4 linked regions of the Homo sapiens genome follow. The protein of the gene in region 2 purifies or fractionates together with the protein of the main gene of each other region. This does not show direct contact. Each region holds a gene or a part of one and is shown on either strand. Other genes may lie near its edges.

Region 1 (6,368 bases), on a different chromosome or scaffold from region 2:
CCATTTTGGCCAGGCTGGTCTCGAACGCCTGACCTCGTGATCCACCTGACTCAGCCTCCCAAAGTGCTGCGATGACAGGCGTGAGGCACCGCACCAGGCCCACAGATCTTAATTTAAAAAGTTTTATGAAAAAAATCAATGCCCTTTGAAAAACAGGCTGGGTGCGGTGGCTGATGCCTATAATCCCAGTACTTTGGGAGGCCAAGGCAAGTGGATCACTTGAGGCCAGGTGTTCAACACCAGCCTGGACAACATTGTGAGACCCCATCAATATAGAAAATAAAGTTTTTTAAAAAGGTAATGCTGGAGGAAAGCTTAGGATTGACAGGAAACACAGCCTTCAAGGGAAAATGCTTGCATTACACTGAAAAGTCTCTTTAAAACAAAAACTGACGAAACAAAGCAGTACTCACATATACTTTAGGCTTCGTTTCCACAAAAGGCTCTTCAAAGTCAGAAAAATGGAACCAGCATAATAGAAAAACTACAAATGGCCAACACAGATAAAAATAAGTTCAACCGGCATGGTGGCTCAAGCTTGTAATCTCAGCACTTTGGGAGGCTGAGGCAGGTGGATCGCCTGAGGTCAGGAGTTTGAGACCAGCCTGGCCAACATGGTGAAACCCCGTCTCCACTAAAAATACAAAAATTACCCAGGTGTGGTGGCAGGTGCCTGTAATCGCAGCTACTTGGGAGGCTGAGACAGGAGAATTGCTTCAACTCACTTGAACCCAGGAGGTGGAGATTGCAGTGAGCCAAGATTTCACCACTGCATTCCTGCCTGGGTGACAGTGAGACTCTGCCTCAAAAATAAAATAAAATAAAGTAAAATAAGTTCAACCTCAGGGAGGTGCAGATAAAATCAAGGAGGTATTCAGCATGTATCAGATTGGCAAGGGCTGGACAGTTTGGCACTTCTTGCAGGGCTTAGGAAGTGGGGAAACGGAAGGCATGATAATGAGTGCCTGGGGTGGGTGGGCACAACCACCGAGACATCAACCAGCAACGCCCACCAGTTTCTAAATCTGCATGTCCTGGAAATGAATCAAGTATCCAATAACAGAGTAACTGTTAAATTACGGTAAGTGGTTAAATAGAATATGAAGCAACCATTAAAAAAGCAATTAGTTGGTGGGGCACGGTGGCGCATGCCTGTAGCCGAGGCGGTTGGATCACCTGAGGTCAGGAGTTAGAGACCAGCCTGACTAAGGTGGTGAAACCCTGTATCTACTAAATACAAAAAATTAGCCAGGCGTGGTGGCGCATGCCTGTAATCCCAGCTACTTGGGAGGCTGAGGCAGTAGAATCACTTGAACCCAGGAGGCAGAGGCTGCACTCCAGCCTGGACGACAGATTGAGACTTCATCTAAAAATAATAATAATAAAATAAAAGTAAAAAACCAACTAGTTGAAGTGAATTCTATTGTATTAACAGAGTAAAAATGCCCCAAGTCCCAATGTTAAGTGGGGAAAAAGCAAGCTGTGGGTGACTGAGGACCATAAGCATCTGACCCTCTCAGCAATCTACACATGTAGGAACACTCCTGCCACTACATGCAAAATGCCAAGGAAGATGCACGGCAGTCGGTCACTACGGTGGGGAGACTTTTTTTCACAACATACCCTTACTTTTAAGAAAAAAAAAAAAGTGAGTATGTTCCTATTATTTCAGTTTTGTTTCTTCTAGGAAAAATAGTTGGCAGTATTACTAAAGGCCCTGAGCCACCAAACTGATAAAAGGACATTTGTTTTAATGATTCCTCAGAGCATTTCCAATTTGGTCTTCCTTCCCACCAATGAGGCTTCCTCCCTAGTGACTTTGAGATGGGAGTCTCGCTCTGTGGCACATGCTGGAGTACAGTGGCGCAATCTTGGCTCACTGAAACCTCTACCTCCCAGGTTCAAGTGATTCTTGTGCCTCAGCCTCCTGAGTAGCTGGGATTACAGGCCTGTGCTACCACGTTTGGCTAATTTTTGTAGTATAGTCCGTGTTTCGTTATGTTGGCCAGGCTGGTCTTGAACTCCTGGCTTCAAGGGATCTAACTGCCTCAGCTTCCCAAAGTGCTAGGATTACAGGCATGAGCCACTGGACCTGGCCCCTAGTGACTTTCTTAATAATCTTCCCCTTTTCCGTGACTCGTGGGTAGGCAGCGTCTCACGTGGCCATGCATGTCAGTGACCCACACAGCCTCCACACTGTGAGGTTAGCATGTCTCGTGGGCAGACAGCAGTGTCCTTGGATGTACCCGGGGGCTTTGTGCTGTAGAGATGTTATTTTAAATAATAAGCCAAGTCGAGGATGGGAGCGTTTCCATGGCAACTTGAATTTTAAAACCAAGATTTCTTTGGTTACTGTGGTGGCTGAGAACACAGGCAGCTGCCATGTCCAGTGGCTCTCAACTCCTGGAGGACAACCTGCCGTGGCCATTCCCTGGAGTCCCACAGGGCCCCCTCGCCACTTCACTAGCAGGCGACTTCCCTGCACCCGCCCTCCTTTTCATGGTTCCCAGGCCCTCCCACACCTCCCTGTGCTCCCTACTCATTCCCAGGCTCCCCGGGGCCACCGCTGCCAGCCCCAGGGCCCAGCCCATTCCACTAGTCCCAGGCTGAGCGCTGGGAAGTTCTTTCAGCCCCGCACCTTGGCCCAGGGCTGTGGTGTTCCTGGCTTCTCTGCTCCTCCCCTATGGTATCCAGGTTGGGGCTCAAGGGGCCGCCAGCGTGCTGCAACCGGACGATAAAATGAGCCCTGCACTTGGAGTCAGGAGACCTGCATTTGGATCTGGCTCTGCCACTGACTAAATGGCACCCTTGGGGTCTGACCTTCCCCAAGCCTCAGTTTCACCACCTATAAAATGGAGCTAGTAACCATCGTGTCTCAGGTGGCAGTCAAGAATGAAATGAGGAGGACCAAAGCGCCGGCACATGCCTGGCATGCAGTGATAAGGTAGGAAGGGCACTCGCTCCAGCGGGCTCTGTTCCCTCCCTCTCTCCTCTAACACTTCTAGCTCTCAGTTCACACTAAACCTATTCCAATAGGTCCCCAACGCCAGGAAGAGTCTAAATGAAAACAAGTTTGTTTTTTTTGTTTGTTTTAAGACAGGATCTCACTCTGTTGCCCAGGCTGGAGTGCAGTGGCACGATCATGGCTCACTGCAAACTCTGCCTCCTGGGCTCAAGAGATCTGCTCCCCTCAGCCTCCTAAGGAGCTGGGACTACAGGCATACACCACTACGCCCAGCTTTGTATTTTTTGTAGAGATGGGGTTTTGCTATGTTGCCCAGGCTGGTCTCAAACTCCTGGACTCAAGTGATCTGCCCGCCTTGGCCTCCCAAAGTGTCGGGATTATAGGTGTGAGCCACCATGCCCAGTAAAACAAGCTCTTAACTTCAATTAACCCCAGCATTTAACATCCAAAAATGCTTCCACTCTTGAGGGTCCCGAGACTGCTGAGAACTCAAAAAGTGTCAAGCCAAACACAGAGGTCCTGACAGCAGTGGCAATCTCACTCCATTGTGCAACAGGCGCCTTTCTCTCCACAACAACGCAAATCTCAATCACTCTGGACAAATGCAGATGGTGAAAGTGACAAGCTGAGCTGTTAACAGCTTTCCAGGGTCTTTGCATGGGACAGCAACCCATTTTCACTTCCCTTTATATAGGCACCCACTTCCCTTTTATTTCTTAATTCTGTGCTTTCTGCTCTGCTTCTTACAAGAGATGATGAACACAAAGTCCTTATTTCACGAGGGAAGGATGTGAACTCTTGTGTGCCACAAGACCCCTTTCCAGGATGCGGGCTGGTGGAAGAACAGCTGCGAGCAGATGTCATCTCTAGACCTTGGTCTGCTGTGCTGCTTAGGCAGACCTGAGTTCCAGTGCACCCCTCTGCCCCTTTTCCAAGCTAATCTTTGGGTTAAAAAAAACAGAAAAGGGTGCTCCTCATATCCTCTCTCTCCAAACCTGCAGAGCACTTATGAGAAAGCACGCTCCACCCCGGCTCTGTAGAACGTTGTTATGTGCCAAAAAGAGTGTGCGGCCAGGCGACTCTATCAACCAGAGCACCTTCCTCCCCCGGCAAACGGCACCCTAGACTACCTTGAAGCCGTTTCCAGGACAAATAGGGACCTTGCGATCCTGGAAGGAGGTGGAATGAAAGTCAAAGGAGAGGAGGTGCGGCTAAGTCACAGGAGGTGTTAAGTCCTGACACCCTTAAAGAATCAGTTTTGGGCTGCCACCAAGCTCAATAAAGAAGGCTTTCTGGCCAGGCACAGTGGCTCATGCCTGTAATCCCAGCGCTTTGGGAGGTCAAGGCAGGCGGATCACCTGAGGTCAGGAGTTCGAGACCAGCCTGTCTCTACTAAACAAGGTGAAACTCCTGTCTCTACTAAAAATACAAAAATTAGCCAGGCACGGTGGTGGGTGCCTGTAATCCCACCTACTTGGGAGGCTGAGGCAGGAGAATCACTTGAATCCAGGAAGCGGAGGTTGCAGTAAGCTGAGGTCACACCACTGCACTCCAGCCTGGGCAACAGAGCGAGACTCTGTCTCAAAAAAAAAAAAAAAAAAAAAAAAAGGCCGGACACAATGGCTCACGCATGTAATCCCAGCACTTTGGGAGGCTGAGGCAGGCGGATCACGAGGTCAGGAGTTCAAGACCAGCCTGGCCAACATGGTGAAACCCTGTCTCTACTAAAAATACAAAACTCAGCCGGGCATGGTGGTGCTGCCTGTAGTCCCAGCTACTCAGGAAGCTGAGGCAGGAAAATTGCTTGAACCCAGGAGGCAGAGGTTGCAGTGAGCCAAGATCACACCACTGCACTCCAGCCTGGGCGACAGAGCAACACTCTGTCTCAGAGAAAAAAAAAGAAAGAAAAAGCTTTCTTACATGGTCACAGAGCCCTCAGGTAGACTGCACTTTAAATCTGTAAAGGATTTAAGGAGACAGGATATGTACACTTAAAATTTCCAAATAAGCCAAGTTGCTAGCTCCTGGCTGATAGACAAAAAAAGTGAAAGAATTCTTAGCAAAGCTGTCATGCAGTATTTTGCTCTTCCTCATTCGTTGGTGCTGTGGCTATACTGCTGGCTCCTCTCATAGTCAGCTCTAAAGAATTGAAAGTTGGCCGGGCACAGTGGCACACACCTGTAATCCCAGCACTTTGGGAGGCCAAGGAGGTGGATCACCTGAGGTCAGGAGTTCGAGACCAGCCTGGCTAACATGGTGAAATCCCATTTCTACTAAAAATACAAAAAATTAGCCAGGCGTGGTGGTTGTGCACCTATAATCCCAACTACTCGGGAGGCTGAAGCAGGACAATTGCTTGAACCCAGGAGGTGGAGGCTGCAGTGGGCTGAGATCGCACCATTGCACTCCACCTTGGGCAACAAGAGGGAAACTCCGTCTCAAAAAAACAAAACAAAACAAAACAAAAACAAAAGTCAAGTGCTTACATTTTGCCAGAAGCCACAAATGAAGACTGTGCCTTATAGGCCAGCAGAGCGGCTAAGAGCACGGGAACAGTGGAAAGGTGGGGAGACTGTGAAGGCTCAGTAAGACCTTCCCAGAGTACTTTGTTTCTTTCTCTTCTATAAAAACTAGTCTTGGCACTCACCGCTAATAACGGCAGTTGCTCCTGAAGTTTTGACCACTTAAGTGCAACCACAAAACAAGACTTCGGCGAGTTTCATCTTCCCCTACTTCAACCTGCCAGACACACCTCAATGCTGGAGCAGCCCTGCACTGGGTGGGAGTGTGCTGACCTCAACTATGCTCTGTTGTGACCCAGAGACCTTTCCTTTTTGAGTATGAATCACAGCCTTGCTGTGGCCTCTGATGTGTTACGTCTTTGCCCCTAATGGAACTGTGTTTAGTAGATTCTTGGCTTATGATTAAATTAAGGACAAAAACAAAATCCAAAGGGCTCTCAGGCCTCGGTCTCATCAGTCCCCTGATGAACGGGCACCAGAGGCCCATCTGTCCCATGGAGCAGGCTCCCTGCAGCTGTAGCCCCGAAGCAACTGAAAACCTGTCAGAAAACCCACCCAGCACACAGGTGTGCAGAGGCAGCAGTGATGCTCACCAGCCTTGGAGGCTTCCAGGGAACCAGGGGAAGCAGAGAAGCCCCACTCCACCTCCCTCACCTGAACCAGGTTGGCCACTCACAGGTCCTTCCCCGTGCTGCCCACCTGCCAATCATCTATGCAAACCAGGTACTGCAGGCCCAGCCCACGCAAGCTGCTCTCCATAGGCCTGAAGACACCTATGAGTGGAATATTGTACAAGGTCAGCCACAGCAACCCCACATCCTGCAGACAAAATGACTACTGTACACTTGAAACAGCAGACACTACGAAGGCCCTCAGCAGTT
Region 2 (8,639 bases):
TAGGATCAACTGGAAGAAAGGTTATCAGTGATGGAAGACGAAATGAATGAAATGAAGTGAGAAGAGAAGTTTAGAGAAAAAAGAATAAAAAGAAACGAACAAAGCCTCCAAGAAATATGGGACTATGTGAAAAGACCAAATCTACGTCTGATTGGTGTACCTGAAAGTGATGGGGAGAAGGGAACCAAGTTGGAAAACACTCTGCAGGATATTATCCAGGAGAACTTCCCCAATCTAGCAAGGCAGGCCAACGTTCAGATTCAGGAAATACAGAGTACGCCACAAAGATACTCCTCGAGAAGAGCAACTCCAAGACACATAATTGTCAGATTCACCAAAGTTGAAATGAAGGAAAAAATATTAAGGGCAGCCAGAGAGAAAGGTTGGGTTACCCACAAAGGGAAGCCCATCAGACTAACAGCTGATCTCTCGGCAGAAACTCTACAAGCCAGAAGAGAGTGGGGACCAATATTCAACATTCTTAAAGAAAAGAATTTTCAACCCAGAATTTCATATCCAGCCAAACGAAGCTTCATAAGTGAAGGAGAAACAAAATCCTTCACAGACAAGCAAATGCTGATTTTGTCACCACCAGGCCTGCCCTAAAAGAGCTCCTGAAGGAAGCACTAAACATGGAAAGGAACAACTGGTACCAGCCACTGCAAAAACATGCCAAATTGTAAAGACCATCAAGGCTAGGAAGAAACTGCATCAACTAATGAGCAAAATAACCAGCTAACATCACAATGACAGGATCAAATTCACACATAACAATATTAACTTTAAATGTAAATGGGCTAAATGCTGCAATTAAAAGACACAGACTGGCAAATTGGATAAAGAGTCAAGACCAATCAGTGCACTGTAGTCAGGAAATCCATCTCACATGCAGAGACACACATAGGCTCAAAATAAAGGGATGGAGGAAGATCTACCAAGCAAATGGAAAACAAAAAAAGGCAGGGGTTGCAATCCTAGTCTCTGATAAAACAGACTTTATACCAACAAAGATCAAAAGAGACAAAGAAGGCCATTACCTAATGGTAAAGGGATCAATTCAACAAGAAGCGCTAACTATCCTAAATATATATGCACCCAATACAGGAGCACCCAGATTCATAAAGCAAGTCCTTAGTGACCTACAAAGAGACTTAGAATTCCACTCAATAATAATGGGAGACTTTAACACCCCACTGTCAACATTAGACAGATCAATGAGACAGAAAGTTAACAAGGATACCCAGGAATTGAACTCAGCTCTGCACCAAGCGGACCTAATAGACATCTACAGAACTCTCCACCCCAAATCAACAGAATATACATTCTTTTCAGCACCACACCACACCTACTCTGAAATTGACCACATAGTTGGAAGTAAAGCTCTCCTCAGCAAATGGAAAAGAACAGAAATTATAACAAACTGTTTCTCAGACCACAGCGCAATCAAACTAGAACTCAGGATTAAGAAACTCACTCAAAACTGCTCAACTGCATGGAAACTGAACAATCTGCTACTGAATGACTACTGGGTACATAATGAAATGAAGGCATAAATAAAGATGTTCTTTGAAACCAATGAGAACAAACACACAACATACGAGAATCTCTGGGACACATTTAAAGCAGTGTGTAGAGGGAAATTTATAGCACTAAATGCCCACAAGAGAAAGCAGGAAAGATCCAAAATTGACACCCCAACATCACAATTAAAAGAACTAGAAAAGCAAGAGCAAACACATTCAAAAGCTAGCAGAAGGCAAGAAATAACTACCATCAGAGCAGAACTGAAGGAAATAGAGACACAAAAAACCCTTCAAAAAATTAATGAATCCAGGAGCTGGTTTTTTGAAAGCATCAACAAAATTGATAGACCACTAGCAAGACTAATAAAGAAGAAAACAGAGAAGAATCAAATAGATGCAATAAAAAATGATAAAGAGGATATAACCACCGATCCCACAGAAATACAAACTACCATCAGAGAATACTATAAACACCTCTAGGCAAATAAACTAGAAAATCTAGCAGAAATGGATAAATTCCTTGACACATACATCCTCCCAAGACTAAACCAGGAAGAAGTTGCATCTCTGAATAGACCAATAACAGGCTCTGAAATTGAGGCAATACTCAATAGCTTACCAACAAAAAAAAGTCCAGGACCAGATGGATTCACAGCCGAATTCTACCAGAGGTACAAGGAGGAACTGGTACCAATACTTCTGAAACTATTCCAATCAATAGAAAAAGAGGGAATCCTCCCTAACTCATTTTATGAGGCCAGCATCATCCTGATACCAAAGCCTGGCAGAGAAACAACAAAAAAAGAGAATTTTAGACCAATATCCTTGATGAACATTGATGCAAAAATCCTCAATAAAATACTGGCAAACCAAATCCAACAGCACATCAAAAAGCTTATCCAACATGACCAAGTGGGATTCATCCCTGGGATGCAAGGCTGGTTCAACATACGCAAATCAATAAATGTAATCCAGCATATAAACAGAACCAAAGACAAAAACTACATGATCATCTCAATAGATGCAGAAAAGGCCTTTGACAAAATTCAACAACCCTTCATGCTAAAAACTCTCAATAAATTAGGTATTGATGGGATGTATCTCAAAATAATAAGAGCTATCTATGACAAACCTGCAGCCAATATGATACTGAATGGGCAAAAACTGGAAGCATTCCCTTTGAAAACGGGCACAAGACAGGGATGCCCTCTCTCACTGCTCCTATTCAACATAATGTTGGAAGTTCTGGCCAGGGCAATCAGGCAGGAGAAGAAAATAAAGGGTATTCAATTAGGAAAAGAGGAAGTCAAATTGTCCCTGTTTGCAGATCACATGATTGTATATCTAGAAAACCCCATCATCTCAGCCCAAAATTTCCTCAAGTTGATAAGCAACTTCAGCAAAGTCTCAGAATACAAAATCAATGTATAAAAATCACAAGCATTCTTATACACCAATAACAGACAAACAGAGAGCCAAATCATGAGTGAACTCCCATTCACAATTGCTTCAAAGAGAATAAAATACCTAGGAATCCAACTTACAAGGGATGTGAAGGACCTCTTCAAGGAGAACTACAAACCACTGCTCAATGAAATAAAAGAGGATACGAACAAATAGAAGAACATTCCATGCTCATGGGCAGGAAGAATCAATATCATGAAAATGGCCATACTGTCCAAGGTAATTTATAGATTCAATGCCATCCCCATCAAGCTACCAATGACTTTCTTCACAGAATTGGAAAAAACTACTTTAAAGTTCATATGGAACCAAAAAAGAGCCCGCATACCAAGTCAATCCTAAGCGAAAAGAACAAAGCTGGAGGCATCACCCTACCTGACTTCAAACTATACTACAAGGCTACAGTAACCAAAACAGCATGGTACTGGTACCAAAACAGAGATATAGACCAATGGAACAGAACAGAGCCCTCAGAAATAGTGCCGCATATCTACAACTATCTGATCTTTGACAAACCTGAGAAAAACAAGCAATGGGGAAAGGATTCCCTATTTAATAAATGATGCTGGGAAAACTGGCAAGCCATATGTAGAAAGCTGAAACTGGATCCCTTCCTTACACCTTACACAAAAATTAATTCAAGATGGATTAAAGACTTAAATGTTAGACCTAAAACCATAAAAACCCTAGAAGAAAACCTAGGCAATACCATTCAGGACATAGGCATGGGCAAGGACTTCATGTCTAAAACACCAAAAGCAATGGCAACAAAAGCCAAAAATGACAAATGAGATATAATTAAACTAAAGAGCTTCTGCACAGCAAAAGAAACTACCATCAGAGTGAACAGGCAACCTACAGAATGGGAGAAAATTTTTGCAACCTACTCATCTGACAAAAGGCTAATACCCAAAATCTACAATGAACTCAAACAAATTTACAAAAGACAAACGACCCCATCAAGAAGTGGGTGAAGGACATGAACAGACACTTCTCAACAGAAGACATTTATGCAGCCAAAAAACACGTGAAAAAATGCTCATCATCACTGGCCATCAGAGAAATGCAAATCAAAACCACAATGAGATACTATCTCACACCAGTTAGAATAGCGATCATTAAAAAGTCAGGAAACAACAGGTGCTGGAGAGGATGTGGAGAAATAGGAACACTTTTACACTGTTGGTGGGACTGTAAACTAGTTCAACCATTGTGGAAGACAGTGTGGCGATTCCTCAGGGATCTAGAACTGGAAATACCATTTGACCCAGCCATCCCATAAGTGGATATATACCCAAGGGATTATAAATCATGCTGCTATAAAGACACATGCACACGTATGTTTATAGCGGCACTATTCACAGTAGCAAAGACTTGGAACCAACCTAAATGTCCAACAACGATAGAGTGGATTAAGAAAATGTGGCACACATACACCATGGAATACTATGCAGCCATAAAAATGATGAGTTTATGTCCTTTGTAGGGACATGGATGAAACTGGAAACCATCATTCTCAACAAACTATCGCAAGGACAAAAAACCAAACACCGCATGTTCTCACTCATAGGTGGGAACTGAACAATGAGAACACATGGACACAGGAAAGGGAACATCACACACCGGGGACTGTTGTGGGGTGGGGGAGAGGGGAGGGATAGCATTAGGAGATATGCCCAATGTTAAATGATGAGTTAATGGGTGCAGCACACCAACATGGCACATGTATACATATGTAACAAACCTGCATGTTGTGCACATGTACCCTAAAACTTAAAGTATAATAATAATGAAATAAAAAAAGAAAAAAACTGTACTGAGAAGACTTTTTGCTTATTTAATTGGAGATAAATTATCTAGAAAATATATTTCCCTTCACCCTGTATCAAACTTGAGTTGAAACAAGGAAACTGAGGTGGTTATGTGACTTTGAGACACCTGTTTTTTATGTTTGCCAATTAACTCTTCCCTCTACTCCCACCCTTGGCTGCCTTCATCCAGTTAAGAAGACATCAAAGAAATAAGGAGTCTAGTGTGATCAGTCAATGTAGTTGACAAAAATAATTATCCTGTAGCATATTTTAAGAAGGTAACTAGAGCTTCATTTTTGAGACTTGATTTTTATTTGTTTGGAAATTAATAAGACCAAGATTTGAAACTTTATATTTAAATATATAAAGGTATTATTTTCTCTACTTTATTTTTAACAGTATATAAACCTGAGGCTCTTCTACTCCCAGAAGGAATATTTACTATGTTTTAAGGGCTCAGAATGTAAGCGTGTGGAAGACACAGAGCATAAAATTCGTAATATTTTTCAAGACCATCAAAATCTTCTTCCGTGAAAATTTCTTACATAAAATATATGTAAAAATTAGAGAATCTCAATGGTTCTTACCTGGATTTAGAATCCTACAGCAACTGCAACAAGTCCACCCTTTATTCCTCTTAAAGTAGTTGGCTTTTTGAAAACAAGTCCAGTGATGATTAACCACCTTATTATGTCATTGCTCTAGTCAAACATATAAAACCTAGTTAGTTTTAAGAGTTCACTCCAGTTGCCAATATTTAAAGATTATATTTCTCAGAATTCTCACATTATTTTTTGTTAATCTTAACAAGTAAACCTTACTTTTGGGAATGGCTTTTACTTGTTTATTCAATTAAGTTGGTGGCATAAGATTTTTTTCTTTAAAAATATGAGTACAATAAATTATTCCAGGTATTTAAAACTTCCAAATAGGAAATAATTTAAGACAAATAAAAAATATGCCTACAGGTTACATTGGCATTTAAAAATTAAAATATACCCTCTTTGCTTGGTACATAAGTATGGTTCTAACGTGGTATGTATGGAGACTGGAGATACCACCTGGAATAAGAGAGTCCCAATTAACTGCAAGACCATTTTTCTGAATGATGAAAATTAAGACTGCTTTATGCGATAGATTCTTTACATCAAAACAGGAAAGAATTATTAATATCACAGTTTCCTTTTATTGACTTGACTTGTGGAGAAAGGAAGAGCTTAACTCAGTTAAAAGTTTTCTTGAGTAGAGATGAAGTTTAATTAATTCAATAACTCAAACATTTTAGACTCTCAATTATACCTTGGACATTAAGCTCTCTTCTGAAATAAAGTACAGACCCTTCTCTCACATAAATATATATATTTCAGAAAAGTGTGAAGATATATGTATGTATATACACACAAACATACATGTATACATATATACACACTTTTACCTGTATACACATATGCACATATATATATGTGGTAATGTGAGGATGCATATATGAGAATATGGTTACCCCTTATCATTCATGGGACATTTGTTGATATGGTTGCAGCAAAATGTATTTGATGTCTGTGCCACAGTTATCTGATTGATTAGTTCTATTCTTGGTTAATTATTGAGAGTATTGGAATCATGAGACAAACTAAAGAGTAGTGTAGAGGGGAAGAATGACTGTGCAGAACTGAGAAATGTAGACCCAAGGCCAAAATATTAGAGTAAGGCTTCCAAATACTCTGCTGAGTAAGAATCTACTGGCGAGTTGTCAAAATAGCAATCCAGTCCCATACCCAGCAGATTCTGGCTCAGGAGACCAAAGATTATGCCTGTTAAATAAGCACTTTGAAAAATTTTCATGTACTGCCAGATTTTGATATCATAACAGGAATGCAGAACATTTTCCATCATTTTTATGGACTTCCTTTTATTCACAATGGGAATACAGTTTGGGTTTTCTCAGGCTAATGGTTTTCTCCTCAGACATCCATTTCATTGAAAACACATCAACATGTTTGGAGACTAATATATATATTATATACAATGAAGATAAAACAGTACAAACTAACTAACAACCTTTATAATCCTGAGCTAAAGGTGCCAGTTGTAAAATTCTCCAATATTTTCAGAGGTCAAAGAGCATTCTCTGTGCCCCTTTTCTCTTCCTAATTGTGTAAATAATTAGACTGCTCATTTTGTGGGATCATGGAAAAACAAGAGTACACCAGGGGAAAGATGTTGCAAAACATCTTTCAAGATCAATATTATGCTAACAGCCACGCATCAGTTAGATGACAAAAATTGATTTAAAGAATCAGCTGATATTTTTTTCAGGAACGGCTATCACAGCTCTGATGAAATATCATGGCCTTTGAAGTCTGAAAGACTTAAATGCCGATATGTCTCTGCTACCTGCCAGCAGTATAAACATCAGTAGGTTATTTACCATTTCTGAGCATCAGTGCACTCATCTATAAAGTAAGAAGTCTATATTTGGAATAAAGATTTAGTGTATGTAAAGTGCCTTACATAATGCCTGGCACATTATAGATTCAACACCTAATTAGATTAATTGTATGATATTTGCATATTATAAATTTTAGAGCAGTTAATTTATATTAAATGAATACAAATAAAATCTCTGAGATCTGTATCCTGTAGATCTGTAAAACCTATGTCCAATAGGTTTTAGCCCCAGAGTTCTCAGGTGTGTACCACAGGCACACCTCAAGAGGGAACCGTCAGGCTCCAAGCAGATCCGCCCTTACCCGAACATTTCACTTCTGTTGGTGCTGATTAAGAGACAGCTCCAGAAAGCTACACTCTCCTGGAAAGAACTCCTATTCTACATATTATTCTCCAAACATGTTTCTATACCCACCAATGATCAAAGCTCTGGCATCATCAAGACTAATATTACCATGGCAATTATCGCTCTTATGGTAGTGACCACCATAAGAAGGTAGGGATTCCCTGATGACTCATCACCTCTTCTCTAATCCCCACAGGGCTCTGCACATTCCTATGTTTGCCCCCATCTTCTCTCTTTCTCCCAATCCTGGACTGAAATTCTTCTCTTGAGTTTTCTGGAACCCATCACTAGTCATGACTGAAACTCCCCTTACCTTTACCTCTTCTCTGAGTTATTCTGCTTCACTTCTGCCTTGAACTTAAAAATTGGTCTTCCCTGAGACACTCCCTCTCCTGCAGCAGTGATACATAGGGGTTGCCTTATCCCCCATATTGCTGCAAACCAGATGGGCTGGTTTCCAATGTGCCTCACTTTGCTAGTTTCTTTACATTTCCCCACCCTTTACACTCATAATCCATAGTTTTGGATCTCATATTGAAAGACTCTATCACTTATTCCTCTTGTTGAAATCATCTATCAACGCTCAGTCACTCCCACTCATTTCATGACAATTTTAGCTCTCGATCCAAAGCCATTCTCTCAAAATGCTACTACTATTTTAATTATTCATGATGGTAATGACCATGAAGAGAATCTTTTTAATTCTCTGTTTTCTTTTTATTTTCTTTTTATTTTTTAGCCTTCTCCTCAATGATCTTGGCTTCTACCTACTGCTATGGGCATATCCTATGCTTTTCACACCACTGTAATCTCTCCATAATATCAAAGATTGGAGCACCACTCTTTATCACTCCTAGCTCACACTCAGTAACACCCTAGATCCACATGCTTCCACTGACCAGGATGTATAACCTACAATTTGATTTTGCCAGAGATTTCGGTGTTCCTTATCTATACATCTGGGTTAATTTAATGGTCACGGTAATCACTCTCTTCTATATAACTTCATATAATTTTGACTGTTTTGCATTATTTTAATTGCATGTC
Region 3 (7,931 bases), about 28 Mb from region 2:
TGGGTAACGTGGGCCAACTTTCCTGACTTTTCCACTCAGTCTTTGGTGCTCCCTCCTACAAAATGACTCAGCCCTGCTCTGGTACTTTGGCTACCAGAGTCGGCCTCAGCTAAGATGTGGGGCCTGAGAGGCAGAGTGAAGAAAGGGAAGTAAGCTGGCATCCTGGAGCCCCAAAGGCAGAGCCAGCTGACAATGCTGACTGGAGCCCCCATCTACATAGCAAATGTAGGGAGACCTCCCTTCAGCAAACTGTAACCAAGATTGGCCACCAAAGATCTAAACCCAAGTAATTCCAAGCCTTTGGCAGGAACATCAAAGCCTTTTACCTGCTTTCCAAACAACACAGAGAAGAAACCAACTCCGTGCCTGAGGGCAGCTGTTGAGTGCCAGGCCATGGAAGTTCCCGCATCAGGGAGAGCCAGGTTAGGTGGGCAAACAGCAGCCTCAGCACCTGGTAGTAAGCTAAACAACACCACCCTCTTTTCTGAACCCCACAAATTGTATGGACTTGCCTGGGGAGAAGAGGCCAGGTTGGGGAACCAGGAATAGGTCCCTGCCCTGCCTCAGCTGCCGGCGTGAAAGCCCACATCCAAGCTGTGCTCTTACCAATGGTAGGGATGGTGGTGACGATCTCCCCGAGTTTCAGCTTGTATAGGATGGTGGTCTTTCCTGCGGCATCCAGGCCCACCATCAGGATGCGCATCTCCTTCTTCCCAATCAGGCTCTTGAGAAGGTTTCCAAAGATATTGCCCATGATCACAGCAGCTGCTTTCTGGGGACAGTGGGGCCCAAGTAGGGGCAGTGGCAGTCTGGTTTTGGCCTGGTCCCTGGTATGGAAGACTTGATCCTAGACAAAGGAAATGTAAAATCATACCATCATTTGCTTGTCAGGACTTCCAAGTAAATAGAATTTCCCAAGGTCATGGCTAGAGTTCATTCATGACAAACGGAGAGCCTGAGGGGACTATAAATACCAAGGCCCACTCAGATACATACTGAGTCTTTGGGAACAGAGACAAAGCAGTAAACACTAAGGATCCCTGCTCTGCCAGTAATCTAACCATGTGACTCTGGGCAAGTTACTTCACTTTTCCATATCTGCACCTGTAAATGGAAGGGGGATTGAACTAGATGATTTCTGAAGTCCCTTCAGTTCTGACATTCTACCCTATACCCAAAGGCATTGTAAGATCATTAATGCCCCTCCCTCCCCTAACCTTACTTACCCTGAGACTTCTGGCAAGGGTGGGAGAGGAGGGAGCGGAATAAGGAGTGGCTCTCTGTGACTCCTGACAAGGTTCAGGCTTGCCAGTTTCCCAAGGTTTATGCTTTCTCCTTTAATCAAGAGACTCTGCCTCTTCCCTTCCTATATTTTTGCAACTCCATCTTTCTTCCACACCAAAATAAAGGAGGAATAAGAAAGCCGCACTCTTAAAAGAAGCCGATCCTTTACACTCTGTGGAATGCCAGCTGCTAATGTTGTGCCCTGTTCAAACAACAGTGCACTGGCAGTAGAGAGGTGGGGTATGGCGGGGCTACCCCTTTACTCCTCAGCTAGGTGCATCCTTGGCTTACTGTGGCCCATCCAAGGAGGGGGCTGTCCCACATGGTCGCTGCAATGAGGCAGTCATCTCATTGGTTCTCTGCTTCTTCCCTAAGCCTTTCGGCCTATTCTCCATATAGCATCTAGGGTGGTTTTAAAACCAAACTCAGGTCATATGAGTCCTTTGTTCAAAACCCACTCGTGGCTTCATAGCTCCTTTTCAGTAAAACCCAAGGCCCAAACCATGGCTTACAAGGTCCTACAAGACCTACACTCCCCTACTTCTCTCATGAGATCTACTACTCTCTCTTTGCTTACTCCACTCCAATTCCCCAACACTTTCCTTTCCTGCCTCAAAGCTTTTTTTTTTTTTTTTTAAAGAGGCGAGGTCTTACCGTGTTGCCCAGGCTGGTCCCAAACTCCTGGGTTCAAGCAATCCTCCTGCCTTAGCCTCCCAGGGCACTGGGATTACAAGCATGAGCCACCATGCCTGGCCCAAAGCTTTCATATTTGCTATCACCTCTGCCTGGAATGCTTCTCTTCCAGATAACCATCATAGATTACTCCTTCACCTCCTTCAGTTAGTTGTCTGTTTCAATGTCACCTACCAAAGAGGCCTCCCACAACCACATGTATAACACACACACACAGACACACACCACTCCCTACCCCATTTATCCCACTTTACTTTTCTTCACAACATTTATCACCATCTGATACATTATATATTTATTTCTTGCTGATTGTTTTATTCTGCCTAAGATATCAGCTCCTTATGTGTTTTGTTCACTGCTCTGTCTCCAGTACCAAGAATAGTGCCTAGCACACAGTACTTCAAAAACTGAACTAATCCCCAGGGTCTCTACTGACTTTACTGAAAGCTCACTCAGACTGGATGCTATGCCTGGCATATGGTAGGCACATAACAAATACCTGCTGAGGCCGAGCGCAGTGGCTCACGCCTGTAATCCCAGCACTTTGGGAGGCCCAGGCGGGTGGATCACCTGAGGTCAGGAGTTTGAGAACAGCCTAGCCAACATGGTAAAACCCCATCTCTACTAAAAATACAAAAACTAGCCGGGCATGGTGGCACACTCCTGTAGTCCCAGCTACTCGGAACGTTGAGGCAGGAGAATCACTTGAACCTGGAAGGTGGAGGTTGCAGTGAGCCGAGATCACGCCACTGCGCTCCAGCCTGGGTGACAGGGCGAGAATCCATCTCAAAATAATAATAATAATAGTAATAACAACAACAAATACCTGCTGAAAGGATGAACAGGACCAAAAGAATCATTATGAAGGTATAAAATGTCTATCTGCTCACCCCAGCCATTGCCCCAACAGACAGAATCAGATTCATTCATTCATTCCCTTTCTTCTTCCCTCTCTTCTCTATGGCACAGGATAGCCACAGAAATGCATCTTTGAAACAATAATAAAATGAGGATTCAGAATCACCCATACAAACCAGTTCTCTGTGCCTGCAGGAGGCATGTGTCAGCGGGCAGCTTATTCAGCAATCACCATATGCCAGCTGCTGGCATTCTCTAGAGTCTGGGAACCAGAGACACACACACACCCCAAACTCAGCAGCCAAAGGGACAGGTCAAGACAAAGTGCGCCCAAACCCAAGAATGTGAAAGGTGGACGGGGAGGAATCCTATTTACAAGCTAACGCATGGGGGTTTGGTGGGAGTTTGGTTGTTTTTACAAAAACTTCTGACATTTCCCCCACCACCCTTCTCAGTTTGCAGCAAATTCCAGACTAGTGCAACTGAGCCAGATCAACAGTCCCTGAAGACCAAAGTACTAGTTTGTCCGAAAAAACAGAAACAATGAGTGCTTATGAAGTGTTTCATCTTCAAAAGGCCTCCCCAGACAGCCACTAATGAGCCAGGCGTGGCACTCTCAGTAGGTTCCCCAGATGAGCCCTACCCCTGACCTAGAGGGTTCACACACCAGGAAGAAGGGCTAGCTCAACCTTAGGGTTCAACTTCAGTCAAGCCACCCGCTAGCCTTCCTCCCTACTCTTCCTGCCTCAACCCACCCAGGTGGACAGACTCCTGAGGACCCCTGAGCGACCTACCCAGCTAAGAACAGCTCTCACCAACCTTGGCAATTTGTAGTAGTGACTTTTGGTCATACTACTAACACCTCATGAAATTTAAACCTTTCCCAAGTCTTCCTAGTCTTCTAGCCTTTATTCTGCCTCTTGCTCAGGCAGCCTTTCCTTCAGCTCCAGATGACACTTTGCTTTAAAGGTTTGGTATCAGGCTTTGGCCCAGATTCTGAATTAAATTTATGCCACACATTTATCTTGCTGTCCTTTATGACTGAAACTATTGCTGATTAAATGCTTACCAACTGTGAGTATAGTGGTGGCTGAAAAAGATATAACTAGCCAATATGCCTTGCCCCAGAACACAGGTACACTGTCCTTTGATTTGCTTCTTTGCTCGGCTGTCATGCTGAAGTCCTGGTTCAAAAGCTGATCCCAGTGTTACACCTATTATTTCCTGGCATGCCACATCAAGGCCTTACTTTGAATGACCTTAACCACTCAATGTGGCACTTACTACCTTGTCGAGTTTTTCTTCTTTTATAAGTCTGTGTATTTACTGCTTCCCACGTTAAGCTGTGTATTCCCTATGTGCAAAGACTATGTCTACTTATTTTGAATCTGTCCTCCCTCTAGTGCCAAGTAGATTGTGGGAGTTCAATTAAGCACATTGGCTGATTTAAGCCTCATCTGAGGATGTCCTTATATTATTTCTTCTGTCCAGTAGGATTTGGTATCTCTGTGTAATGCACAGCGAGTTGCTTAGCTATCCTGTCCATTCTCAGCCATTTTCCACACATATTTGACGCAGGACTGGTTTGGGAACAACATAAAAGGACTAGAAGACTAGAATTGGTGGGATTCTCTCTTGCCATTTAATATACAGTGGGACTGATGAATAACTGATAAAATATCTAAATAGCTGGCCAGGCATGGTGGCTCATGCCTGTAATCCCAGCACTTTGGGAGGCTGAGGTGGGCGTATCACCTGAGGCTGGGAGTTTGACACCAGCCTGGCCAACATGGTGAAGCCCCATCTCTATTAAAAATATAAAAATTAGCTGGGCATGGTGGTGCGCGCCTGTACTCAGGAAGCCGAGGCAGGAGAACCGCTGGAATCCAGGAGGCAGAGGTTACAGTGAGCTGAGATCATGCCGCTGGCACTCCAGCCTGGTTGACAGAGGAAGACTCTGTCTTAAAAAAAAAAAAAAAAAAAAAAGGCCGGGCACAGTGGCTCACGCCTGTAATCCCAGCACTTTGGGAGGCTGAGGTGGGTGGATCACCTGAGGTCAGGAGTTCGAGACCAGCCTGGCCAACATGGTGAAACCCCGTCTCTATTAAAAACCCAAAAATTGGCCGGGTGCGGTGGCTCACACCTGTAATCCCAGCACTCTGGGAGGCCAAGGCGGGCGGAACACGAGGTCAGGAGATCGAGACCATCCTGGCTAATACAGTGAAACCCTGTCTCTGCTAAAAATACAAAAAAATTAGCCGGGTGTGGTGGCTACTCGGGAGGCTGAGGCAGGAGAATTGCTGGAACCTGGGAGGTGGAGGTTGCAGCGAGTCGATATCATGCCATCACACTCCAGCCCGGGCAGACAACAGCAAGACTCTGTCTCAAAAAAAAAAATTAGCTGGGCGTGGTGGTACATGCTTGTAGCACCAGCTACTCCAGAGGCTCAGGCAGGAGAATCGCTTGAACCCAGGAAGCAGAGGTTGCAGTGAGCCGAGATCACGCCACTGCACTCCAGCCTGTGTAACACTGAGACTCCATCTCAAAAAATAAATATCCAGTAGCTATCATGTATCTCCCTGGCACAGCCCAGGACCTTGAAACTAATGGATGTTATGACTCCTCCTCTTTATTTATTTATTTTTTTTGAGACAGTCTCGCTCTGTCACCCAGGCTGGAGTGCAGAGGCAGAGGTTGCTCACTGCAACTTCTGCCTCCCAAGTTCAAGTGATTCTTGTGCCTCAGCCTCCCGAGTAGCTGGGATTACAGGCATGTGCCACCATGCCTTGCTAATTTTTATATTTTTAGTAGAGACGGGGTTTTGCCATGCTGGCCAGGCTGGTCTCAAACTCCTGGCCTCAAGCAATCCACCTGCCTTGGCCTCCTGAAGTGCTGGGATTACAGGCACGACCCACCACGTCTGGCCATGACTTTTCTTTAAGTATAATCTGGAGCTTGACTTAAATGAGCATTTCAAAGGGGATGCTGGCTTTCTTGTCTTGGTTTTCCCTGTCCCTTGCTAATACCAGAGAGCATGCTGCCCTACCACCAAGATGGTAGCAGCTTTCTGCTTTGTGCCATGAATACAAATCTCTGGCTATACAGCCTATTCTCACTTTCACAATACATTCCTAAAAAAGCACTAGGAAGCAGAATGGCAAAGCAAACAAACCATGAATTGTTTCTCCATGTATTATATAGCCTATAGTTACTCTCTTTCACCACAGATGGTACTCCTGTGTTTATAGGGCAAAATGCCAGGGTTCCATTGGCTGTTGGATACCAAGAATAAGCAGTTAAGACTGAAAGTGAGTGGCTCAAGATGAAAAATGGAATATACTAACATCTCTGTTAAAAAGATATCTGCAGGTTCTGTTTTACAGTCAGAAACTTTATTATCACAGGTAAAAATAACAATAGGAACCCAAATATGTGCTCTAGTACAATCTGTGTGGGACACTGTAGGAATTCAGTTAAGCACATCAGTTGATTTAAGCCTCATCTAAGGATATCCTCACTTGAGGACAACTCACTGCTCCCACCTCATCCCCCCAGGAGAAGCAGGCTGTTGCTGTAACTGGCTACTCAGCCATCTTTCCTTACATATGTTGCAGGAACGTGCCTGCCTCAATCTCCAGGTGCTTTTGAGAGTCACACATCCCAGTCGGCCACACATACTCCCTCTACCTGATTCCAGTGAATGATCCAAGAATGTGCTATGAGACACCTCTGAGGGGACTCCTGATCTGGCACTACCTCCTCCTCTTCAGCGTCCAGGGGAAGGAAGACCAGGGTCTCCCAAACCCTCTGCTGCCAGGCAGAGTGCAGTAAAAACAGCTTTGTTCTTAGATAATTTTCAAATTGAAATATCACTAAGAGATGCTATTTTTAGCACAGCTAACCAAACAGACCAATACAATTTAAAGAAACAAAAGCAGAGTACGCCCGTACTGAGTTTTCTTGGTGCAGCTGGCTCGTGACCTGTGTAAACTCCAAGTTTTTGTCTCAAGAGCACTGAAATCAGAACATAAGAACTCCTAGATGATATCTGAACTATTTCGACTAGACTTAAAGATTTCCCAAAGTTAAGAAATAGCTTCTGATACCAGCTTTCATCCATTCATCAAACTTTTTTTTTTTTTTTTTTTTTGAGACAATCTCGCTCTCTCGCCCAGGCTGGGGTGCAGTGGCGCAATCTCGGCTCACTGCAACCTCCGCCTCCCAAGTTCAAGCGATTCTCCTGCCTCAGCCTCCCGAGTAGATGGGACTACAGGCGCATGCCACCACACCTGGCTAATTTTTTGCATTTTTAGTAGAGACAGGATTTCACCATGTTAACCAGGATGGTCTTGATCTCCTGACCTTGTGATCTGCCCACCTCTGCCCCCCAAAGTGCTGGGATTACAGGCGTGGGCCACCGTGCCTGGCCTCATTCATCAAACATTTATTGGGCATACTGAACTAGGGATACAGAGAGGGAGACAGTTTCTGCCTTCATGAAACTCAGTCTTTAATGGAAAAGACTAGTGAAGACAGGACTACAAAACAGTGTGAGAGTAAGAGTAAAGCACATAGTATTATGTGAACAGAAAGCTGGAGCAGTAAATCAACACTGAAGGGTAAAGGGTGATTCTGAAACCTAATTCTCAGGTCATACCTGAGCTGGCTCCTAAAGGAAGACGAGGAAGTAATCAGACAATAAAGAGGGAGTTGGGCAGGGGAAGTGTGTGCAAAGGCATAAAGACTGAGCCAGGCACAGCAGGACACACCTGTAATCCCAGCACTTTGGGAGGCTGATGCAAGAAGATTGCCTGAGGCCAGGAGTTCAAGGCCAGCCTGGGCAACATGGCAAAAGCCCATCGCTACAAAAAAAAAAAAAAAAGCTGGGTGTGGTGGTGCACGCCTGTAGTCCCAACTACTCAGGAGGCTGAGACAAGAGAATCACCTGAGCCCAGGAAGTTGTGGCTGCAGTGAGCCATGATCACGCCACTGCACTCCAGCCCAGGTGACAGAGTGAGAGAATATGTCTCAAAAAAAAGAAAAAGAAAAAAAGACCTAAGTTTCAGATAGCACTTTAAAAAAATTTATATAATCTT
Region 4 (7,931 bases), on a different chromosome or scaffold from region 2:
GACCTTCGCCTCCCGGGTTCAAGAGATTCTCCTGCCTCAGCCTCCTGAGTAGTTGGGATTACAGATGTGTGCCACCACGCCCAGCTAAATTTGTATTTTTAATAGAGATTGGGTTTCACCCCGTTGGCCAGGCTGGCTTCAAACTCCTGACCTCAGGTGATCCACCCACCTCAGCCTCCCAAAGTGCTGGGATTACAGGCGTGAGCTACCGCACCCGGCCTATATTCCTTTCTATAATAGAAAGGTATTTGGCTATTTTAGTTGATTTAACAGAAAAATAGACCCCCCCCCCCAACCAAAGGACAAATTAAAGAAACAGCAAACTTACCTGGCAACAGCCTCAAGACTATTACTGTAGATATTGATTCGCCCAACAAATCTGTAAAAAGAACAAAATTGCAAATGTGTTTTCTACATCCAGGTGAAATCCATGTACCAGAAATATGAGAATGAATGAAAATACAAATAATAAAACAGAGATAGATAAAACTGTGAATGAACTACAAAAGCCTATTATATTTCTGGGGGAAAAAAAGTTATGTTGAATTGATAAGGTGTATAACATTTTCATATAATTTTTAAATAACATGATGGGATTATAGGAGCAGAAACAAAGGTTCTCAATTGATTTTCAAGTTCTGTTTAACATCATGCATGCACACAACACCTCTCTCTTTTATAAGTTTATATAAATAACGTAACTTCTATCTTGGATCATGTGAAGAAAGGTTTCTGGTGCTAAAATACAATTTTCAAAACCGCTAGTTCAGTAGTTCTTACACTTGAGTGTGCATCAGAATCACTGGAGCGCTAATTAAACCACAGATTTCTAGGTCCCATCCCTGAGCTTCTGATTCAGGTTCCCCAGTAATGCTGCTGCTGCTGGTCCTGAAACCACTCTTTAAACCATAGTACTAGTCTTAGACAGTGAACACTTGAATGCCATCTTGGAAATGTCCAGCCTGTGACTTGTAGTTGATCTCAATACTGAGCTTGACCCAATCACTTAATATAATAGGTGTATGGTAACCTGTATTTCTGCAAAATAAGGTAAAAATACCTAATCCCTCGTTAACATCAGTGTTTTATAATCTGCATCGTAAACAGCATTTTCCCCAGAAAATAGAAATATATATTACTCATATACACAAAATATGAAGGCTTGCTCATTCATTCATCATATATTAATTGTGCCAGTGCTATACTAAGTGCTGAAGATGTACTAATAAGCAAAAAAGAAATGGCTCCTTGCCCTATAAAAGTAAATAGGCAATTACGACGCAAGTGCTTACCACTAGAGTGATAGAAGTACAAGGTATTCCGAAGTCACACAGCAAGGAATTCAATCGTCTAAGGAAATAAGGAATAACCTTCCCTGTCCTATCATTCTCCTTCATACTTAAAGCAACTGAAAAATGTGGGGATTTCCCTATAAATATGCAAGGGTATAGATATTGTTCTCTAGCTCAGGCAGAATAAGTTACTCCCTTTTCTGTGATTCCATAGACCTTACACTCACCTCTATTATCACCTTGTATAAGCTTAGCTTTATTACTTCATCTCTTGCTCACAGTGAGTCCCTTGAAGGTAGAGAATAACTGTTACACTTTTTGGCCCTAGTTCCTATCATCAAGGTGGATACGGAAGAGGAAGGGAAAGAGGAAAGAAAAAGTGATGAGAAGGAGGGAGGTCATTGTTCTTGAAGTAGAATGAATACTTTGTTTTTCCACTACTAGGTGTTAGTGTAAACCACATCCAACCACTTGGTCACTCATTATGACTAACAGCATGCATTAACAAGATGGGTAATGGATGCCATCTGCAACGGTAGAATAGGATAAAATTAATTAGCCCACGTGGGGATAAAACCTGTTACACTACCCTGATTAGTACTATGCTCTAATCAACCCAACTAACCAGTCTTGAAATCAAACGCCAATTTTTGACAACCCACAATGACTAATAATCAGCAAACCTACTCCAGAGAGCCTAAGTATAGTAAAATAGAGGAAATTACACCATTGTACTCATCCCTTAACTGTTTACTGTGGACAAGAAAGAGCCTATTTGCAATCTTTAGTGCATCATGATCATTCTAAGAAAGGATAGAACCTACTAATTGCATGAAGAGGATATCCCCCTTCTCTCTTTAATGTTAGATGGCATGTAAAAGGATTTGTTTTTTATTTAATTAACTGGTTACTGCATCAGTCTGATAGATCAGCCTTACAGGGTAACATAATCTAAAATTTTGATATATGGCCATGTTTACAAGTAATAAAAATAAAAGAAAAATCATAAGATACCTGGGCCCACAATGATTTATTCTGGGTTGATAGTGAACAAGGCTGATTTGATTCATTTTTCTGCCAGAAGGAAGGAATCGCCCATAAAAACACAAATGAGAGTAGGCTGGTAAGTGGTGGGTGTTTCTTTTGCAATACTATTAGCAAAGAGAAGCAGAGCCAACAAACAGAAGTAAAATGAAACCAGGTGATTCTTACTTGTAGAGGTCAGGTTGAGGCTGTTCACATTCAATTGCTGCTCGGAGGGTATCGATGGATTCTGCTGTACACAGTGCAATGGTATCACGTACTGCATAATGTGTCTAGTTGAAAGCAGAAGAAAAAGTGAAAACCAAAAAAACTTTCTTTTCATAATCATACACCCAACTGATTTCAGAAACAAATTTAGTTTATGTTTTAGTAAGAGGCTTTGGCAGAATAAACAAATATTAACATTTCCCACTAATAAGTTTTATGGTATTATTATGAAAATATATTACAAATAATTAGAAAGATAACCTGCCGCAAGGAGGGTTTCAAAGACAATTAAAAACCTAAAAGCTCTTCTTGACATGGACAGCTGAGAGAATTCTATTCACAACATGCATATAATTAACTAAAACCACGTGAAAAAGTTAATACATTTATTTTTTTTCCTATTTACAGAACTGAGACTTATTATTTTGCTCACTATAGTGTATGGCAATGGAGATATACACATATGAATTGAACATAACCTTTTTGGTCACAAAAATGCTAAAATTTTGCCAACAGCAAGAAAAAAATCATTAATAGTTCCATTACACAAATAGCTTAATTAATGATCTTGAAAATGTTCAATATGGATACATTTTGTACAAGGGGCAGGGAGATGACGTGTCTTGCATTAGTCAGATAATTAGAATATTCTACTAGTGTATATTATGCACTTGATTCATCCAGAACTCAAGGCAGGCGCCAATGAACCCACTTATAAATCATCAAACAAGGGTTAAAGCAGACTCAAAGAGCGCACCACTTAGGCAGAAGGGAAAGCTGTTGTCGTCATCTTGGGGGAAATATTACGGCAATGTCTGAACTATATTTAAAACTATCTCCTGATTTTGAAAACCTCTGTACTTTTAGCTGATTTGATCAGAACAACTTAACTGAAAAAAGAAACTATCTGAAAGTTTTCTTACTCCAAACAACTTTTTCACTATCAGGAAATCTTTATGTAGATTTCTTGATTTATATCTTGACATTCCCTAAATTATAACTTTGTTTTTGAAAAGGTTAAAAGCAGGTCATTACCATGCTTTTGAAATACAGAATTAGTCATCCAACAGGTAAAGGTTCTTTTTTACATACTGAGTCGTAGTCCTCAACTCCAGATGGAATAAACAAACAGAGGAGCCCTCCAAGGACATACCCAGAGGTGAGCCACATGAGTAACCCTCCTTAAAGGCAGCATAGAGAGGATACATCTTCATGCCCTGTGGAGCTCTGGACCATGGCCAAGAAAACCGACTGTGCCAGAAAGTGTATGAGGGAAATAAGTTACCCCCATTTGGCCAAATTTACTTTAAGTCACTTGCAATTATAAATGAGTTATAATTTGTTATATGTACATAAAATGTTGCTTTATAACTTACTTATAAAGCAAACATTTTCCAAACTACACCCTATCTTTTTTTTTTTTTTTTTTTTTTTTTTTTTTTGAGATGGAGACTCACCCTGTCACCTAGGCTGGAGTGCAGTGGCGTGATCTTGGCTCACTGCAACCTCCATCTCCCGGGCTCAAGCAATTCTATTGCCTCAGCCTCCCGAGTAGCTGGAATTACAGGCGCCCACCACTATGCCCGGCTAATTTTTTTGTATTTTTAGTAGAGACAGGGTTTCACCATGTTGGCCAGGCTGGTTTCGAACTGCTGAACTCAAATGATCCGTCTACCTCAGCCTCCCAAAGTGCTAGGATTACAGGCGTGAGCCACCGCACCCAGCCCTAAGTATTATTTTTAAATAGCAATCAAATTACTCCAGGTTGGGTTTCCTACATCCCAAGAATATACATTTTTAATGAAAATATACATTTTAGAAAAAAATAGATCAAATTGTAAGGTTAGCATACATGAAGTTATTTGTATAGTCACACAGTTTAAGCCTATGATTACTCCCATTTTAGAGTCTAAATATTAAATAGGCTGTGTCAATATTAAATTCAAGCAGTGCTATAAAAATTGTGGTAGCTTTTACTTGGGGCTCAGTTTTTCCACACGTAATTACCACCCTTTTACCCAAACACGAGTGTTTGCTTAGAAGTTAAAAAACAATTACATAACAGCTCTTTTCAAATATAAAACCTAAGAAAAAATAAAAATAAGAAAAAATAAAAGATTAGAGGGTGATGGGAGGCAGTATTGTATGATTAACTATCCTGAGATCAAAATGTTTAGGCAAGGTTTAGTCTGTTACCTTGCAATTGGATTCCCCATCAAGACTGGCTGTAGTGACATAACAGGTTCCATCAGTGGTGCAAGATGATAGAAGAATAAGATCACAGGGAAAGGTTTCATCTGCCTGTACTTCTACTACATCACCAACCTGGAATTGAGAAATAAATATAAATATTTTAAATTCCAAACAAAGCATTCATTACACTCATACAAAAGTCAAAACATTAGCAAGAGATTATCTCTAGCTCTGGGGCTTTGAGAGTATCTCAGCATCCTACATCATGTGAAAGGTGATGAAAGAATATTACTCAATATTCAGAATCCTCTTTAAGGTTAGAAGGACTTAGGATGCTTTCAGATTACCTTAGCACTGACCTTTACCTTTAATAAATGATTCTGACATCCGTTTGCTCTCTGATATTTCTTGCACAAATGTTTGATAAGACAATGACATTATCACTTCATGAATGAATCAAGAAAATCTACAACATGTCACAAACTGGGCACTTCATGAACACTGAACAGCCACACTCCCACTCTGTACCACGCATACTTCAACATACTTTGCCTGCCATGTGGTAACAACTGTGTTGTTGGGTGCCAGGTCCTTCTTCAGTGCTCAGAAAATCCCAGTTAATTAGAGAGGCATTGATTTTTCCCAAAATATTTGAATTTTTTTTTTCTATAGGTCACTTTCTATGAATTCATCTGCTGTCAGGAGAATCACTTAATATAGCAATGAGAAACAATTTCTTATCAGCAAGTACCCAAAGCTCAAGGAAAGGAAAAACCTGAGAGAAGAAATCATGAATAATTTAATAATGTAGGGTTAAGTAAATCATAACCATTAAAAGTTTGGACTCTTTAACCTGACTTCTCATCCCAGCTCTGCCACTTAACTATATGACCTTAAATAAGTGTCTTAGACGATTGCAACTACCTCAGAGAATTAATGTGAGCATGAAATGATGATACAAGAAAAGTACTGAGCAAAGTGCCTGGCACATATTAACTACTTCAAAGGTGTTAATTATAATTATTACTAACATCCTGCAACTACTTTACTCCCAACTTATGAAGAGTCATAACATTTTTTTGGAAAGATATAAGAAATCCTCCAGTCTGGTCCTTCCCAAGATTTTCACACCATGGTACATATTGAAAATTATAAATAATACTTTTGTACAGCACCTTCAGGTAAAGGGAAGAGGCTGCTGGATGCAGAAGATAACCCACTTTAGAAGGGAGTCAATATTTGGCACACTGACCTAGACACACTGACTGTGAAATGCTAGGTAATACATGCAACACCCAACTTCTATTTGCAATATGATTCGGCAGATAAAGATGAGGATTTCAAGACCTATTCAGGAAGAATTTTATTTTCTTTGCCAATCTTAATCACTAGCCAAGATCAACAGCATCAATAATTGAACTAACTTGTAAATAATATTTTATTTTGTTGGATTGTTCCTTCCTCACTTACATAAACACTTATGTTGCTTACACAAAACCACAATTTATGCTTAAATATGCAGAAGAGAGATAACAAACAGAATCCTAACACATCTTACAAGAAGGAGATACCCATTAGAGGTCGGAAGATGACTCTCAGGCATTGATAAATAAAACACACAAAGAGAGCATTTTTTCAACAGTTAGGATGTAGTCAGATATGAAATATAAAGGCCCCTATATCTGCAGTGCAAGCTCAGACTGACAAGATGGGTATGAGTCAGATCACAAAGGGCTTAGCAGGCCAGCCTAAGGGATTTAGGCCTCACTCTAAAGGTAAAAGGATAGGTACAGGACTTTTAAAGACAGGGAATAACATGATCTAGTTAGACAATGAACTCTAGAGGTCTATTTACCATTTTAAAAGCCACAAGAGAACATCACCACCTCCCATTACAAACATTAGGAAAAAATGGATAATCTAAAAACAAATACGTATTTTTTAGTCCATCAGAGAGCTGAGGTTGCAAAGCAACCAAGTGAACTGAATTTCAAAGGGTAACAAGTGTTTCTGAGGAGAGACAGGACAGATGAACTGTTTCATAACTGACCAAGCATAGAAGGAAGAGATGGCTACCATGAAAGTGGGTAAGAAGAAAACAACTAGATTTTTAACCAATTCCTAAAGACTGGGTGTGAGCTAGTATGACAGTTCAGAATCTCTACAAGCCTGAGAGACAAGAAGAGACCACAACCATTCACCAGCTCTTCTCTAGAGGCTTCTACTGAGTGTTCATGAGAAAGCATACAGGCAGGAGACCTAAAAGAACCTTTCTCACTGGCACGGGCATACAGGTGGTGACTGCTGTGAAGAAATAGGCACAAAAAAACCATGCCAGAATCATAGACCCCTTTCTCATATTAAGCAAATGTCATCTGCATCTAGGAGAAAGGCAGGAAACCTTCCCTGGCATAGTCTCAGGGAAACATCACTACTGTTAGAGGAGAGGTAGAAACAAAAGTGACCTGCTACAGGGGATGGGACCTGCTACAGGGAATTGGACAGGAAACCTATCATACCAATAACCTGGTGCTGATACAAGGTAGAAGTTCAGTTACTATGAGGGGGGAGGATATTGAGAAAGTCTTACCCTGAGGCTTTGGTGCATATGGCCTGCTTAATATTGTGATTGGAATGAGAAAACCAAGAAATCATTCTGTTCCTGCCAAGAGCCTTACACTGAGTAACAAACAAGAAATAGCAGTCTACCACTGGAGAAAAGGCAAGGGAACGTGGGGCGGGGAGGGGCAACCTCTGGGACTCGGGAATATAGGATGTTGCTGAAAGCAGATAGTATAACAGGAACACCATAAAAAACTCTCCGGCACACCAGGCCCCACACAAAGCTCAAGGTAATGGCATTCTACCACTTAAGGAATTTGAAGTTAAGTGACACATTAAAAACATCAAAAACCAAAGCCAGCCCAACTGTTGACTAGATTGACTCAACCGCCAACACTAGTGGCCTGACAGAAGAAGCCAGGCCCATTTCAGAACACATATACCACTGACCTCAGTGAATACCATTCTTTTACATACAATGCCCAAAATTCAATTAAAAAATGAGATGCACAAAAACACAAGCAAAAAATGAGCCATCATTGAAAGATAAAGCAGTCCATGAAACCAGACCCAAAATGTCCAGATTTTGTAATTATGAAACAGGGACTTAAAAACAGCTATGATTAAGATGTT

Evidence for each region.
Region 1: the proteins of SLCO1B1 (region 2) and CTSB purify together in Homo sapiens (affinity purification with mass spectrometry; one large-scale study listed by BioGRID and IntAct). This does not show direct contact.
Region 3: the proteins of SLCO1B1 (region 2) and ARF3 purify together in Homo sapiens (affinity purification with mass spectrometry; one large-scale study listed by BioGRID and IntAct). This does not show direct contact.
Region 4: the proteins of SLCO1B1 (region 2) and ATP11C purify together in Homo sapiens (affinity purification with mass spectrometry; one large-scale study listed by BioGRID and IntAct). This does not show direct contact.

What each region holds. Positions count from the first base shown.
Region 1 is NC_000008.11:11,855,220-11,861,587, forward strand, and holds part of CTSB (cathepsin B isoform 1 preproprotein), read right to left. Parts: intron 6,261-6,368; exon of another isoform or gene 6,142-6,260; intron 2,722-6,141; exon of another isoform or gene 2,639-2,721; intron 1-2,638. UniProt on the Homo sapiens protein: Thiol protease which is believed to participate in intracellular degradation and turnover of proteins. Cleaves matrix extracellular phosphoglycoprotein MEPE. Involved in the solubilization of cross-linked TG/thyroglobulin in the thyroid follicle lumen.
Region 2 is NC_000012.12:21,127,983-21,136,621, reverse strand, and holds the start of SLCO1B1 (solute carrier organic anion transporter family member 1B1), read right to left. Parts: upstream 5,429-8,639; 5' UTR 5,386-5,428; intron 1-5,385. UniProt on the Homo sapiens protein: Mediates the Na(+)-independent uptake of organic anions.
Region 3 is NC_000012.12:48,940,342-48,948,272, forward strand, and holds part of ARF3 (ADP-ribosylation factor 3), read right to left. Parts: intron 848-7,931; 5' UTR 755-847; coding exon 607-754; intron 1-606.
Region 4 is NC_000023.11:139,799,732-139,807,662, forward strand, and holds part of ATP11C (phospholipid-transporting ATPase IG), read right to left. Parts: intron 4,869-7,931; coding exon 4,740-4,868; intron 2,609-4,739; coding exon 2,505-2,608; intron 380-2,504; coding exon 329-379; intron 1-328. UniProt on the Homo sapiens protein: Catalytic component of a P4-ATPase flippase complex which catalyzes the hydrolysis of ATP coupled to the transport of aminophospholipids, phosphatidylserines (PS) and phosphatidylethanolamines (PE), from the outer to the inner leaflet of the plasma membrane.